Linked DNA regions of Homo sapiens: all the other regions are linked to region 2. Evidence: fine-mapped expression QTL. A gene starts in region 2. Each other region holds a variant in brackets. All regions are shown on one strand. Distances are between the middles of the regions.

Evidence for each region. PIP is the estimated chance that this variant, and not a neighbour inherited with it, causes the effect.
Region 1: its variant is fine-mapped to the expression of NSMAF in whole blood (TOPMed, PIP above 0.99).
Region 3: its variant is fine-mapped to the expression of NSMAF in whole blood (TOPMed, PIP 0.99).

The regions. Positions count from the first base shown.
Region 1 is chr8:58,600,659-58,605,889 of GRCh38, reverse strand. NSMAF (neutral sphingomyelinase activation associated factor) reads left to right here. Exons shown (of 31, transcript NM_003580.4): 13 at 2,504-2,680; 14 at 3,753-3,832; 15 at 4,355-4,445; 16 at 4,542-4,605. Among named protein-coding and RNA genes, the nearest start is that of SDCBP, 50 kb to the right of the region's middle. The variant C/T (reference allele first, on the strand shown) is at 1,968.
Region 2 is chr8:58,657,424-58,662,654 of GRCh38, reverse strand. It overlaps NSMAF (neutral sphingomyelinase activation associated factor), which reads left to right and starts at 2,802. Exons shown (of 31, transcript NM_003580.4): 1 at 2,802-3,082. The coding sequence starts at 3,024. LOC124902083 (small nucleolar RNA U13) reads left to right here and starts at 311; the gene lies at 311-414. RefSeq lists silencers at 2,725-3,064, 3,075-3,524 and enhancers at 3,236-3,798, 3,975-4,264, 3,799-4,362.
Region 3 is chr8:58,592,063-58,597,293 of GRCh38, reverse strand. NSMAF (neutral sphingomyelinase activation associated factor) reads left to right here. Exons shown (of 31, transcript NM_003580.4): 22 at 1,635-1,734; 23 at 3,004-3,062. Among named protein-coding and RNA genes, the nearest start is that of SDCBP, 41 kb to the right of the region's middle. RefSeq lists enhancers at 1,069-1,118, 1,468-2,667. The variant G/A (reference allele first, on the strand shown) is at 2,882.

The DNA of each region.
Region 1 (5,231 bases), 57 kb after region 2:
TTTTTTTTTGGAGGCTGAGTCTCGCTCTGTCACCCAGGCTGGAGTGCAGTGGCGTGATCTCGGCTCACTGCAACCTCCGCCTCCTGGGTTCAAGTGATTCTTGTGCCTCAGCCTCCCGAGTAGCTGGGACTACAGGTGCCCGCTACCACGCCAGGCTAATTTTTTTTGTATTTTTAGTAGAGACAGGGTTTCTTTTCATATGAAGGTAGTTCAACTCCTAAGGATCTGGGATAGGAAATAAGAGAAGAAAAATGCTATTTGTAGAATCGCCTCTTTGTGGGTCTAATTTCTTCTCATCAGTAACTATAATTGCCAAAATAATATTTTTAAAATTCTGGGAAATATAAATTCACTTTGATAATAGTTCATTCTGAATGTATGTTTTAAAAACTCTAGATAAATATATTTAAATGCTCTTATATTTTAACGTCCTCCAAATTGAATGGATTTTGAAGAATCCACTCAAATATTTTTATGTTCAGTCAGGTCTTATATTAGTTTATGAGAACCAAGACTCAGTTTTGTACTGCGAGGCAGTGAGTTATTCATATGTTTGTGATCATTGATTGTGGTCAGAACCACAAAGCTGAAAGACTGCAAAAGGAACATGTGAACCTTCTATGCTCAATATACTGACTTTGGAGTGGAATTTGCTTTTAATTAATGATATTTCCTCAGTTTTCCATGGAAAATGTGAATTTTCCCACCTTTGCCAGAGAAAATACTTATATTATGATGTTCAAGCCCAAAGTTTTTTTATTACATTGCAAGGCTAAATTAAATTATTCTAGTTTACAAAGTTGCTAGATAACTGGAAAGGAATTATCTTTAAAAATGGATTTTGGGGCTAGGCATGGTGGCTCATGACTGTAATCCCAGCACTTTCGGAGGCCGAGGAGGGAGAATCTCTTGAGCCCAGGAGTTCGAGACCAGCCTGGGCAACATGGCTTGACCTCATCTCTACAAAAACAATTAAAAATTAGCTGGGACTGGTGGCGTGTGCCTGTAGTCCCAGCTACTCGAGAGGCTGAAGTGGGAGGATCGCTTGAGCCTGGGAGGTCAAGGCTGCAGTGGGCAGTGATCACACCACTGCAATTCAGCCTGGGTGACAGAGTGAGACCCTGTCTCAAAAAAACAAACAAACAAAAAAGGATATTGGGATTTTATTAATATCATCTTAATGTGTTTGTTATTTTAGTGTACCACAAAACTATTTGTGAAATTTGTAGTAAAGTACATCTTCCCTTAGAAATGAAATTTTACTTCAAGGAGGAATACTTGGCTTTCAGTAGGGAACATATTTTATTTTAAAGTAGGTTTATATATATATATTATATATATCTATGTAGTTATATATAGTTTATATATAGTTATATATAGCTAGTATTTTATTCATACATTAAGCTATTGAAGGTAACTTTATGTATAAGTATAGCTTTGTTACAAGTTTACTTTAATTTCCTGTCTCATGATCTAGGTTTTTAAATTTTATTTTTTTTAACTATAACAAGATTACAATAAAAAGATCAACTTTCATGGTGAGTCCTAAAATCTCAAGCCAAAAACTTTGCCATGATCTAAAATATCCATTTTCTAAGAAACTGTCAGTTCTCACTGAGTTTATTCCTAAGATTGTTCATACTTTTTCTGAGGGGTTTCAAAAGTAGAAAACGAGGGGGAAGTGTGTTTTGATTTTTGAAGCCCTTTCCTAGTAGCTGATTAAAGAAGAAACTTGGTAAAAGTAGATGAGAATAAATATTAAGAGTTAAGATGCTTAATGCATCAGGAAAGGTTGAAAGCAGAATTTTCTGAACAAAATGGAAAATCCACTTGTAGGACAGTTAATTCATTTTACACTCTGAAAGGGAAGTTCTCATTGCTGCATTTATCTAAGATCTCATTTTTCCTGAGGTATTTCAGGGGGCAGGTCTGGTTCTTTTAGTTTGAGAATTGGTCCTCCTGCCAAA[C/T]GCCTGTTTTCTTCTTTAACAATTTCTTTTCTTTTCCTTAGTCTTCACATGCATAAATAATATGTAGTCATTGACAAATTAGCAGTAGTACATCTCTTCCAAGCCTAAAAGAAAACTAAAAGATTGCTTTAATTTCATAAATAATAAAAGAAATAAGCTTTCCCAGATGGCCATGGGTTTTTAAATGCATGGAGACAGCACATTTGGAGGGATTCTTTGTTACTGTATAAATATTACCTATTAACATGTAATATTTATATATTTGCGCTACACTTTTGTATTTGTTTAGGTTATGTCATATTGTGGAGGGTAGTGTAATAGCTCAGTGTATTTAATAATTTCCCCTCCTTGATCTTGGAACTGTTTATACATAGCTGAACAAATACTTTATGAAAACAAGTCAGCAGCCTACTTTTCTTTTTCTTACAATGCATTTTTCAAGAATGCACAGGGATGGTCTACACGTTAAGCCCCTAGCTTTTGCATACTAAGTTTGCGAAGTTAAGTGGCAGACCTCGTGGGTCCTCTTCCCCCAGAGCACCATGTGGCGGAGCACACTGCTGAGAGCTACATGCTGCAGTGGCAGCGTGGACACCTTTCCAACTATCAGTACCTCCTTCACCTCAACAACCTGGCCGACCGCAGCTGCAACGACCTCTCCCAGTACCCTGTGTTTCCATGGATAATACATGATTATTCCAGCTCAGAACTAGGTAACTGCCACACGTGGAATTCTGACCAAGTTGAGTGGGGAGTAGTCATCTGTATTGTTTTTAAAGGACAGAATAAATTCTATTTTATAATTGTGATGTGACATGTGAACAAATTACAACTCATTTCAGTTGTATTGCTAAGGACTGCCAATTTCCATTCCAGGATACTATATAAGTGTTACGTAAGTGTTTCATGTATGTTTTTTCCACCATACTTCTTGAAGGACACACACAGAAAAAATGGGCATGATTTTAACCCAGGGTTATCATTATTACCTATAAGTACCACGTTTTGAAATATTTGCTTCTCACTTTGAAAATTTCACTCACCTTATATTATTTTTAAAAATCACATTAAAAACTGTGATTATTTGTTATAGAACACTTGGAAAGTCCTGAAATAATCAAAGAAGAAAATTAAAATCATCCATAATTATATTACAGAGATAACCACTTTACCTTTGGGGTATATCTACTCTTCTCTTGCTACCACAGATTATTTTAAGAAAAATGTAATTGTATTGTAACTTTATTTTGTAATATTTAAAAATTATATATTGTGAACAGTTAGTTCCTCTTGACACATTATCTTGAACCTTTGTCCTTGAAAGAGATAATAGATTTTCTAGAAATATGATAAAGTATTTCTCTGAAAATATTTAGCTCACTAGTTCTCAAATAGGCTAATATTGAAGAATAATAATATTCACTAGAATTCGAATGTAGAAAGTAAATCTTGGTAGAAGAATAATGGCTTTTAAAATTTTGTTGTTGTTGTTGTTTTACTTGGAATATATATATGTTCCTTAATCAGAAACTTTTTTAAAAAAATTAATGTTCAGGGCATTGTCAAATTAGAGATATTGCTCTTAAGTGGTTGTGTCTAACTTAAAACTCAAAATTGCTAACCTTTTCTTTACATCTACATAAATAACTAACAAAAATAACTCTCATGGATTGCTCTCAATTTTTAAAAAAACTTTTGTGGAAGTAAATGTGTATATTTGAATTAATTCAGGAGGTTAATGGTACTAAGTATAAGCTGAAGTTATTTATTGATTTATGTTTATAGATTTGTCAAATCCAGGAACCTTCCGGGATCTCAGTAAGCCAGTAGGGGCCCTAAATAAGGAACGGCTGGAGAGACTACTGGTATGTGGACTTAGAGATTCTTGGTTTCTAAGCAACACGAGAAGCCATGGCCTGTGTTTTTATGGAAGGAAATTCGTTTCTCCAAGGCTTAGGGGAATTATACCAGTGACTCTACGTAGAGTTTTTTCTTACTTTTCTCCTGACCGTGAATTAGCTGCTCACCATTTGCATTTCTTGTCTGCAGTTTAGGAAGGAGGAGGGCAACCTGTTTACAGGTTCACTGAATTATTTTCATGAAGGCATTCTGTGGTAAATCGCATAAGAGACACATAAAATCAGTTCTATTTAATCTAGTGCCAACATTTTGTTACCATTAAGCCAGGGAAACCAAAATACTTGTCTCAGGAATGCTGTTTAGCCACAGATTTTCTTTCCCTCTTATCTTCTCCTTTTCTTATCTAACAGAGAAATTAAGGAATATGGTATATCTATGTTATGATTTCTTTTAGGCTTTTTCTACTTGTCAGTTATTATTTCATAGCCAACACTTAGCTCTATTTTTTTTTTTTTTCTGTATTCTAGACACGCTACCAGGAAATGCCTGAACCAAAGTTCATGTATGGGAGTCACTACTCTTCCCCGGGTTATGTACTTTTTTATCTTGTTAGGATTGGTAAGATTCTTTATCATTACCCCCAATTAAATTTTATTTCACTGTATTCTTCAATGATTCTGTGACCTGACTTACCTCTGACTTTTTCCCCTCTAGCACCAGAGTATATGCTGTGCCTGCAGAATGGAAGATTTGATAATGCAGATAGAATGTTCAACAGGTTTGATACAAATGCCTTGCTTATCATTTTTAACACTTTCTGATTGTATATATACAACATACTTGTTTCAAAGCACTGGATATAATAAAAAAGTAAAGAAATGTAAAAAATCACTAATTGTTCTATCTATTCCTCTCAGGCTTTTTCTAGACATGTATATGTGTGTGTAAATGTGAGAACATATTTTATGTACAGCTTTTTGTCCTACCTTTTGTAGCCTAATATTAAATCTTAAAGTTTTTCCCATATTATTAGATATTCTTCAAAACAATGATTCTTTTTTAAAATTATTGTATCACATTCTAACATATGCCATATTTTATGTCAACTTCTTTTCTCCATTGTTGGGCATTTAGATTGTTTCCCACACTTTATTATTCTTGATAATTTTGCTGTGAATTGAATACAGCTCCCTGTGTGTATTTAGATGGCTTTACTTTTTAAATTATAAAAGTAATATTTTCTTGCCAAAAAAATCAGCAACTATAAAAAAGGAAATAAGTTTACTTGGTATCCCACCACACTGAGATAATAATTGTTGTAAATTTTTTGGTATGTCCTTTTCATTTTTTTTGAACTCTACACATATCTAATAATAATTCCTTTTGCAATGAGCCATTCAGATA
Region 2 (5,231 bases):
ACTTGGACACGTGGAAGGGACTCAGTCACAGTCAAAGGGTACCCAGGCACCTTCATTCATTCCCAAAATTTTTAATGGGTGTGCTCAGTATACATAGCATTTTGTCCAGTGCTGCTAGGGGTCAAATTCAAAAGACCCAGCCACAACTTTTATTCTTGGTTTCCCTACCTTCTCTTCACAGTCCTGCGACTTACTAGAGAAAGCTGAGATGTACATTTACCTTGAAGCTTCTAAAAATGTAACCCTGCAAAACCTGATCCTTAAGACAGTATGAGATATGTTTCCACAAGCATACAATTTAGAGGTTTGGATCCTTTTGTAGTTCATAAGTGTGATGATTGGGTGTTCATGTGCAGCTGTGTGATGTGCCGCCCTTGAACCTTGTTACGAGTTTGGCACATTACCTGTTTAACGTGAAAAAGAAACTTAGAGGCGTGTTATTCAAGAATCCCTCAAAGGTAAACAATCAGAGGCTCATTCTCAGCATATATTAAGAAGTTATAACCACACTGAGATACCACTCATACCACTAGAATAGCTCTAAACAAAAGTCAGGTAATAATAAATACTGGTAAAGATGTAGAGAAACTGGAACCCTTCTACGCTGCTGGTGGGCATGTTAAATCGTACAGCCACTTTGGAAAACAGTCTGGCAGTCTCTCAAACATTTAGACATGGAGTTACCATATGACCCAGTTCCATGGTGGGCAGGCCTATACAAATCTATCTCAAAGTCCTGGGATGCCGGGAGGTGGAAGAAAGAGGCTGACAAATAAAGTTCCTTGGGAAGAAACATTTAATAGCGACTAAGGAACAGAAGCCATGTCCATATCTGTGTCTTGGGCAGCAAGATGAGATGGTGGATTGCTGTGCTATTAACCCCCAGACTCAATGTTTTTTTTTTTTTTTCTTTTGAGATAAGGTCTCTCTCTCTCTGTATTGCCTAGGTTGGGGTGCAGTGGTACGATCATGGCTCACAGAAGCCTCAAACTCCTGGACTCAAGTGATCCTCCTGCCTCAGCCTCTCCAGTAGCTGGGACTATAGGTGTGTGCCACTGCACCCAGGTAATTTTTATTTTTTATTTTTTGTAGAGACAGGGTCTTGCTTTGTTGCCCAGGCTGGTCTCGAACTCCTGGCTTCAAGCAATCCTCCTGCCTCAGCCTCTCCAGTAGCTGGGACTATAGGTGTGTGCCACTGTACCCAGGTAATTTTTATTTTTTATTTTTTGTAGAGACAGGGTCTTGCTTTGTTGCCCAGGCTGGTCTCGAACTCCTGGCTTCAAGGAATCCTCCAGCTTCAACTTCCAAAAGCATTGGGATTACCGGCATGAGCCATCACTCCAGCCCCTTAGGGCTTATATACCATAGGGGAGGGGTGGTTCAGAAGGGATGTGTAGGACAATTGAAGTATAATAACATCAAGTTGTTTGAATTAAGGACAGAACATACTGGGTAGATACCTGCTCTTACACAAGGAACAATAGATAAAGTAGAAATCTTAGAGGCCTTCCCAGAACTGGGGTCAATCAGAAGTCAACACGGAGGATTAGCTTCCAAGATGGAGCTGCTTTCGCCTCCACATCCAGCAATTCCACTCTTAGATTCCAATTCCACTCAACAGAAATGGAAACATAGGTCCATAAAAAAACTGTACATGACTGTGTACAGCAGCCTTATTCACAATAGCCAAAATGTGGAAACAACTGAAATGTCCATCAACTGATGAATGGATAAACAAAATGCAACAGAATATGCTCCAGCAATCTAAAGGAACGAAGTACTGTACAGATACATGCTACAACATAGATGAACCTTGAAAGCATTACGCTAAATGAAAGAAGCCAGACACAAAAGGCCACATATTGTATGGCTCCATTTATATGAAATATCCAGAATAGGCAAACCCATAGAGACAGGAAATTGATTATTGTTTGCTAGGGCTGGGGTTTGGAGGGTAGAGTTAGGAAGAGTGACAGCTAGAGGGTATGGGTTTCTTTTACATGTGATGAAAATGTTCTCAAATTGTGGTGATTGTTGAACATATCTGGAAATATACTAAAAATCGCTGAATGGTATACTTTAAATGGTTGACTTGTTTGGTATGTGAGTTATATCCCAATAAAGCTGTTATATAAAAAAAAATCATGCGAGCAATTATCTCAACAATCAAGAGACTGTGTTAAAGATTCTTTGCTTGGCCAAACTTCAGTTAGGCTTCTGAATCTTCTCCCAGGTCCTTGTGTGCACTTCCTTGTAAATGCAGTGTTAGGAAGTAACACTGCCACGGCAGTTTAGCAAGAATCCCCCACCCTCCATATGTGATCAAAATTCTTTACTCCTACCCTTAGTATCTGACCCCCTGGCCTGCCTTCACTGGGACTCCTGTTAGGTTGGTTCAGCCAGAATTTCCCCCAGAATTGATGTTTCCTCTTAGCAGTTTTCCGAACACCTGCTCCTTGCTCCTTGGCTATAAATCTCCACTTATTCCTGGTGTATTTGGAATAGTTACGACTGAGTTGCCTTCACCCCTTTAACTTCCGTCTTTTTTTTTTTTTCACAATGGAGGACACAAAACGTTGTTATTTCAAGTCTTTGTGGCCAACAGATTGGTGGTTTATGGGCCAGCATCCCTTTTTATGCGTAAAATATTTAAAACGCAGCCTGCAATGGTTGGTAAAGTGGTGAAACGTTTAGTGTGTGAGGTCGGATCCTGGTCTGGCCGCTGGCCCTGGCGATCCTCTGAGGCGGCCTGAGTTTGGGGCGCCTCGTGTCACCGCGCGCCCCTCCTCCGGGCCTGAGTCACGGTGCCGCCGGAGTCCCCACGCGAGGATGCTGCGGTGAGCGCGGCCGGGACGCCGCGTCGGGCTCTCGGCCGCCCAGCGGCGCCGCAGGGGAAGCCAGGCCGGCAGCCGCGCGCTCCCCAGCCGGCCACCAATCCCGCCCTCCCCGGCTCCTCCGGACCTCCTCGGCAGGCGGCGGCGGGGCCTGCCTGTGCGCTCTGCGCCCGCCCGCGCCTACCCTCCATGGCGTTTATCCGGAAGAAGCAGCAGGAGCAGCAGCTGCAGCTCTACTCCAAGGAGAGGTGCGCGCCCAGCTGAAGAAGGGCCCAGCCGGGGGCCTAGTCGGGGCCGGTCGTGGGGACGCCGGCCGGAGATCTGAGGGACGGGAGGCGGCGTGGGGGCCGGGCACGGAGGCAGGGGCCGGACGCGTGTCCAGGGCCTGGGCTGGGGGCTGTGGCGGAAACCTGAGGTCGGGGTGAGAGGCCGGGGGCCTGGTCTGGGCCGGAGCCTGCCGGGGACAGGAACTGGATGACGGGCCAGGCCAGATTCCACCGCGGAGCCGAGGCATGCCGAGCTATCCGGCAGTGCAGGTCCCGGCGGCCGCGGGCAGCTCACCCGGAAGGCCGCGCGGGGTCCGGGCGTGGATCCCGGCACGCGAGCCCGGGCGTTCGCAGGGGAGGGTGAGTACGCTGCCCGGCGGGCACCCCCTTTCTAATCCTTCCCCTTAATCGGGTCCAGGCACTCGGCGCCGGCGCCGCAGAGTTGGTCGCCGGGCGGCACCGAGCAGGCCGGCGACCACCCACTCGCATTGCCGCGCCTTTTTCCTGCCGACTCCTTTAGACACAGGACTAGCTCCATGCCCTGGAAGGCTGGGAGGGGGGCCGCCGGAAAGGCCTGATTCTGAGGAAAGCCAAGGTCCTGCCTCCCAAACACTTGCTCCCCGCGCAGTGGACCTTGTGTTGGAAAGCTTTGCAGTCGAAATCGCGGTGCGGCAGCGGAGCACTCATTCTCACCAGCATCCCAGTAAGGATTTGGGATCCCTTGAGCTAAAATGGTCTCACAGCAGTTCCCTTTCAGATATGCTGGACCTGTCCCCAAGGGAAGTCTCATAAGAAAGCTCACTTCGGCTCTATGTATAGTTCCCAGGGCATTTTTGGTGACAGAAACAACTTGCTCGGTCTGCAGCTCAGATGCCAAAAGGAAAGGGGGGCTGAATCATTTTACAGACACACTGTTTTGATTGTGAGAGCCACAGATCTTCCAGTGCTGCTAGCCTGTCACGTTGTCTCATCAGTGAATACCAGCAAAGCAGGTTACACGTGGGAATACAAGTGCAGACTTCAAGATTTGTCTACACTTGTTTTATAAGGGTTGACTCGACCCCTTTGATCCAGACATTCATCTTTCTCTAATCTGTAATGTTGGTCTAACCAGTGTGTCCACAGTACGAAATGTCATTTTTCTACTGTAGAGAAGAAGATACGATACACAGAAAACGTATCTCAGATATGGCTTTCAAAAATGTTTTTGGTGATGTGATTAGGTTTTAGTCACAGAAAGGGTTGTTTATTAAATAACTGAGCCCTAACTATGTAACTCACACTTGGGGATGCCCTTCTGACTGAATTTGTAATGCATTTTTCTTGTGGAAAGAGCTTGAGTGGAGATTCTTTGTTTAGTACCAACAATATTAAGACTTGTTGGTGCTCTGTATTGAGTGGGTGAACATTCATATTTAAATTGTGAGAACTTTGACACACTTGAATTGGCATCATGTTGTATGATATGAGTCATTCGTGCCAATACTCATATTGGCCTTTTTGATATACAGGGAAACGTTTTTTCCTTGGTTCTGGCTGTTATTTCGATGAAGTAATTTGTGTTCAATTTGGCTAGCTCATACAGCTCCGTGGTGTCACACAAACCTTGAAACCTGTACTTGCATTTCCATGTATATGCTGCTTTGTTAGAATTCATTGATTAGACAACAACGTGATAGGCTGGCAGTGTTCAGAGAGAACTCTAGCTCTTGGCAACCAAAACATTTATCTATCCAGTCAGGAGGCATCAACTGTTCCTGAGCATCAGTCATCTGAAAAAGTTGGCGCCATGTGTTTTATATTTATTTGAATTATAACTTGCTGAGTGCCCAAATTGTTTAGTGCTCTGCCCCATGGCTTTGCAACCTGGGCTGATGGGCATACTCCATTCAATGCATAGAATATGCATTTGAATGACAGGAATCTGTCTCACATCAGGTATGCACTGGAATCAAGGAGTCTCTTTTATAAATCTTAGAATTCATTCTGAAACAGAGGAATATTTTAAGGCAACTTTATTAAGCCCCAAATTTACCATTTCTGCCCAGATTTTTCCGGGTTTATCCCCTTGCATCAATAAACACAAATTAGCAAATGGATTGGATTCGTCATTGGCTCCAGCATACCCAGG
Region 3 (5,231 bases), 65 kb after region 2:
GCTACTTAGAGATGATTGTGTTCTCCTGCCTTATTGCAGTTCTCCTGAAAACAGATACCTGTTTTTGCTGATGTTGTTTGTTTTCAGCTATAGACTGTAAGGGAAATCAAATCGCTTTTATTTTCTGGCAATTGAATATGAGTGAAAGTTGGCCATATATGTTTTGATGTGGTTCTCTTTCTCTTCTGTGGTTTTGAAGCTGGTGTTTGATCCTTAGCTATTTGCCTTTTCATTCTTACAGTCCTAGCTGTCCAGTCTGCCTTCCCAGTCACTGTCAGCCCTGCTGTCTTCCAGAAGGGACTTTCTCTGGCCCTAATTATGCTCTTCTATACCCACATACAGATCTTTTTTTTTTTTTTTTTTGAGACGGAGTCTTGCTTTGTCCCCCACGCTGGAGTGCAGTGGCGCCATCTCGGCTCACTGCAAGCTCCGCCTCCCGGGTTCACGCCGCCGTTCTCCTGCCTCAGCCTCCTGAGTAGCTGGGACTACAGGCGCCCGCCACCACGCCCGGCTAATTTTTGTATTTTTAGTAGAGACAGGGTTTCACTGTGTTAGCCAGGATGGTCTCGATCTCCTGACCTCGTGATCCACCCTCCTCGGCCTCCCAAAGTGCTGGGATTACAGGCCTGAGCCACCGCGCTCGGCCCCACATACATCTTGAATTCAAAGTGCTCTCTCTTCTTCATTGGATTTCACTTATTTAACATTTGACAAACATTTACAGGGTATCTGTTCTGCGCTGGGCATGTGCTAGGCACTAAATTGAACTTGACCCAGTTCTCACATCTAATATTTGGAAAGGTAGGAAAGAACACTCACCTTTCTCCAGTTACCCAGGTTTTAGATTTTACCTAAGACAACTTCAAACCTACAGGCTTCCAGAAGGAGGTTGACACTCTGTGGAGCTTTGGGAGCAAAATCACTTTTTATCTCCTATCCTCCTGTCTGTTCCAAGGACATCCAGACATTTTAGGCATACATAGATGAGCATTCTCTCAAGCATGGAGAAATAGCTTCCTGGAGTTACATGACCCAGGGGTAGCTTCTTTAAGAGAGAATACTCTAGAGGGTTAAATCATGAAGATCACAGGATTATCTTGTGATGCTGTTTCAAACTGCACTCTGCTTAGTCACCAGGCTGTAACCACTGTCATGTGATTGTTTTAAGATGGTAATTGTTTCAGCCCTTCTTAAAGCAGAAGTAAAAGGATTACTCCTGCCAGAAGCCCTTGCGGTAATTGATTTCATCTCTGCTTTCCCCACCCCACACCAGAACAAAATTGTTGCATTCTTAGGCAACTGTCAGGTTTTTGAAACAATGTTGACAAGGAAATGATGACTCAGTCTTGTATTTCCCCAAATTCATAAGTTAGAGGCCGAGTGAAAACTTTGCAAACATTGTTAAAGTATAAAAAGATTCTAGTATTATTCAAAGATACTTTTTATCTTTCTCTATACAATTTTTTCCTTGACTAACGTGGAACCATCTAACAGGTACATTTCAAAGCAGTTATATTGTGACAGGGTGTTTCATTTCTTAGTTGTTTGATTTTAATAGAAAATATTGTTAATCTGATGCTGTTGTCTGTTGGTAACTTAGTTGACTTAGCAAAAATTTAATGTCGTCTCTCCAGGTGAAGAGTCTTTTGAAGACCTGACCGAAGAAAGCAAAACACTGGCCTGGAATAACATCACCAAACTGCAGTTACACGAGCACTATAAAATCCACAAAGAGTAAGAATATCTCTGCTTCTTCTCAGCAGCTGATAGTCCTGGTAAAAGTTAGGGTCTTGGCATGGGATTAAACTGTTTTAAGCTGAGTCAGAGGGAAAATTCCCTTTCAATGTTGTCTTTATTTTTAAAAATCTCCCCAAAATGTCTATAGTGATCTCCACCTGAGGTTGATGTAGTAGGGAAAGTTTGGCACGAAATGATTTGTGGTGGCTACCGTGCTGTCATTTCTGCAGTCTGTCACTTCACAGTACAAGATGTGGTCGGCAGAGAGCAGCCAGTTTTGTGCCTCTCAAATTGGAGTACACAGCTCCTTGAATCTTTGATGGGAGAAGTGTGATGTATACCCCACGAGTGTTGGATTTACACATAATGTAGGTGAAAAGGCACCTTTTAAAAAAATTAGCTCTCCCAGAGAACATTGCAAAGTTCACATGAATTTTAAAAATAATTATGCTTCTAAGAAATTGGGCTTGCTGTTGGACCCAGAGATGATATGTGTGTTCTCTGCCCTCTCTCATTAAGACCTTCATGTTCTCTGGTAGAAAGGCTCGAGAAGCACTGACCTAGCCTGTTCATCCTGCTACAGAGAGGAAACCCAGGTCCAGAGACTAGGCCCCACCTAGCTCCATGACGACAGACAGCCCCTCCGGCATACAGGTCATGGGTGGAGCTGGGCATACTGCTGTGCATTAGATGGATGGCTTCACATCACAGTCCAGCCTCCCGAAGAGAAACAAGGAGTTTTGGCTGATTCATGATGACAATGGCTGTCTTTTCTCAACTTCTCTAAATGGCACATAGGAAGGGACCTTGTAATCCAAGGTAGTGAAGACTGAATGATCCTTTAAGAGGACAGGCTGGAACCAATTTTCTCATCATTGAATAGTCACTGAGTAAATTAGCTTCAGTAATCAGCAAGTGAAGTGACTGTGAAGAAGAGTTTGTCCTTTTGGTGATGGTCAAACGAGGGGGAATAGAAGGAGAAGAGTTTTCCAATTGCCAGAAATTGTCAGGAATATGTAAAGCATTGCATGTGGAACACAGGGAAGCAAAGAGTGGGGATGTTTTCTAGCCACAGGCGTTGCCAGAACGTTAGAAGGTGCCAAGCAGTGATTTGGTAATGGCAGGTTTATGCTGGGACAGATCC[G/A]GCAGACATGCTGTGAAGAAAAAAATTAAGGAAACTTGGTAAAATTAAATCAAGGATATGAAACAAAGAGGGTATCCTAACACATGATGAGTAGTAATTTGTGAAACTTTGTTTTTGAGCAGAGCAGTTACTGGAATCACGGTCTCTCGCAATGGATCTTCAGTATTCACAACATCCCAAGGTCAGTGTTCCTCCCCGAAAGGCGGCTTAACCAAAATCCTAGAATGTCTGAGTTCTTTATTATTTAGCTCGTGGTCAAGGACTGCACTTGCATGTGCTGCCTCCACATAAAGTAAACTTAGAGCAGTTCCTTTGTGGTACATTACATAGAGTTTCATGGTAATTTGCCAAAAATAATAATGAAACATCTTTCTGTTGCTGATGAGGTTTCCCAGAGTTGAGGATAGAGGACAGAAACAGCCTCCTTTCCACACCCTTGCTGGGTCAGGCACTTCCTGCCTGCCCATGAGAGGTGCGCTGTCCACTTGTTGGGGTTGGCTGTGAGTAGCAAGTGCTGTATCAGAAATTGATGTGTGCCTGTCAGCACGTGGAAATGCAGATTTGCTGTTACGGTTTGCAGTTTTGTCATTCAGTGTATATTTCTTCGGGATATTTGATTTAGCTCAAAATCAAATTCATGTATTATTTAATATGCTTATACATTATCAAAATTATAAAAACCCTTGCAGTGTGTCATTGATATGACTTATAGCTGTAAAGCAGAAAGCATCCCTTACTATATACACCATTGTTCTCTCCCTGGTAGTCTGCATTATATATTATTCATTAAAGTATGTCTTGGCCTTGTCATGTTGAGAGCACTGTGTTGGCACTCTGGAAGATGCAGAGATGGAAGGGTAGTATCTTTGCTTCCTGCTTCCATGAGAAAACAACTTGTTCTGACAAAGTTTGTAACTTTATAAAGTAAGGCTACTCGTTATTTAGTCTTTATCATAGGAGATTATATTTTTCATTCATTAAGACAAAGTGCTATCCAACTAAACACTTTCAGGAAAATCAGAATTACTACTCTCAGATTCTGTTATCATTGTTTATGATCTGTAGCATTTCATTCTGTTCTTTTTCAAATACTGTCTTGGATTGTATATAAAAAAATTTTCCACAAAGCATAGAAGTGATTCTACACAGTAGATCAAAAGGAAGTTCATGTGCAGTTCCCAAACTGGGCCATGCCAGGGTCACCGAGGCACTTCTCTGATAGAAGGAAGCAATCTGTATTTTGCCAGGATTTCTACCTGTGGAGTTTGCCAAAAATTATAGCCTCAGACAAAGTGCTTTATCTTTAAGCAAAACCTGTGTTCTTAGCAGGATTTGTCTGGGATGGCTTGTTAAATCGTTCAGCACAGTTGTACTTGTATGACCTTGTTAACCATGAATTTGATGAGCGTTGTGGCTTCAAACCACTGAGGCTTATTAAGCATTATGTCACTCCTCTGTGGATTTTCACAATAAAGGAGAGAGAGGTTTTTTTTTTGTTGTTGTTGTTTTTGTTTTTGTTTTTTTTTGAGACAGAGTCTTGCTCCGTCGCCCAGGCTGGAGGGCAATGGCACGATCTTGGCTCACTGCAACCTCCGCCTCCTGGGTTCAAGCGATTCTCCCGCCTCAGCCTCCTGAGTAGCTGGGTTCACAGGCACCCACCATCGTGCCTGGCTAATTTTTGTATATTTGTAGAGATGGGGTTTTACCATGTTGGCCAGGTTGGTCTTGAACTCCTGACCTCAGGTGTTCCACCTGCCTCGGCCTCCCAACGTGCTGGGATTACAGGCATGGGCCACCACGCCCGGCCGAGAGAGTTTAAAAATAAAGTCAAAAGCTTTTGTTTTTTTCTGTTTGTTTTTCTCATATTTAGATTTTCATAATTCATATTACTGATTTATATGTATCCTGATGGTCACCCCAAAATTACATATCTTCTTCTAGTATACAGTATGTTTAGGTATGTGGGCAGGCACAGAACCCACCACTTATGAGCTTAGCTTTTACTGCAGTCTTTAACATGATGACCTCTAGTACAGGGGATCCTTGATTTCAAGAAAAACGTCTTTTTTTTTCTTTTATTATTTTCTTTTTCCATTTTTTTGGTTCCCTGACTGAGAAATGAACCCAGGCTGCTGCAGTGAGAGCACCAAATCCTAACCACTAGACATCAAGGAGAGAAAAACATCTTTATAGAACCGACTGGTTTCTGGTTTTTTTTGTAGGATGTCTCAAATTAATCATCTTAAATAGATTTTGTGGTGAATGCTCAGAATTGCCTAAGAGAATCAAAAGCAAGGTTGGGAAGACTATCAGATCTAATTATACTGCTCAGGGGAAAGTTCAAGTGATA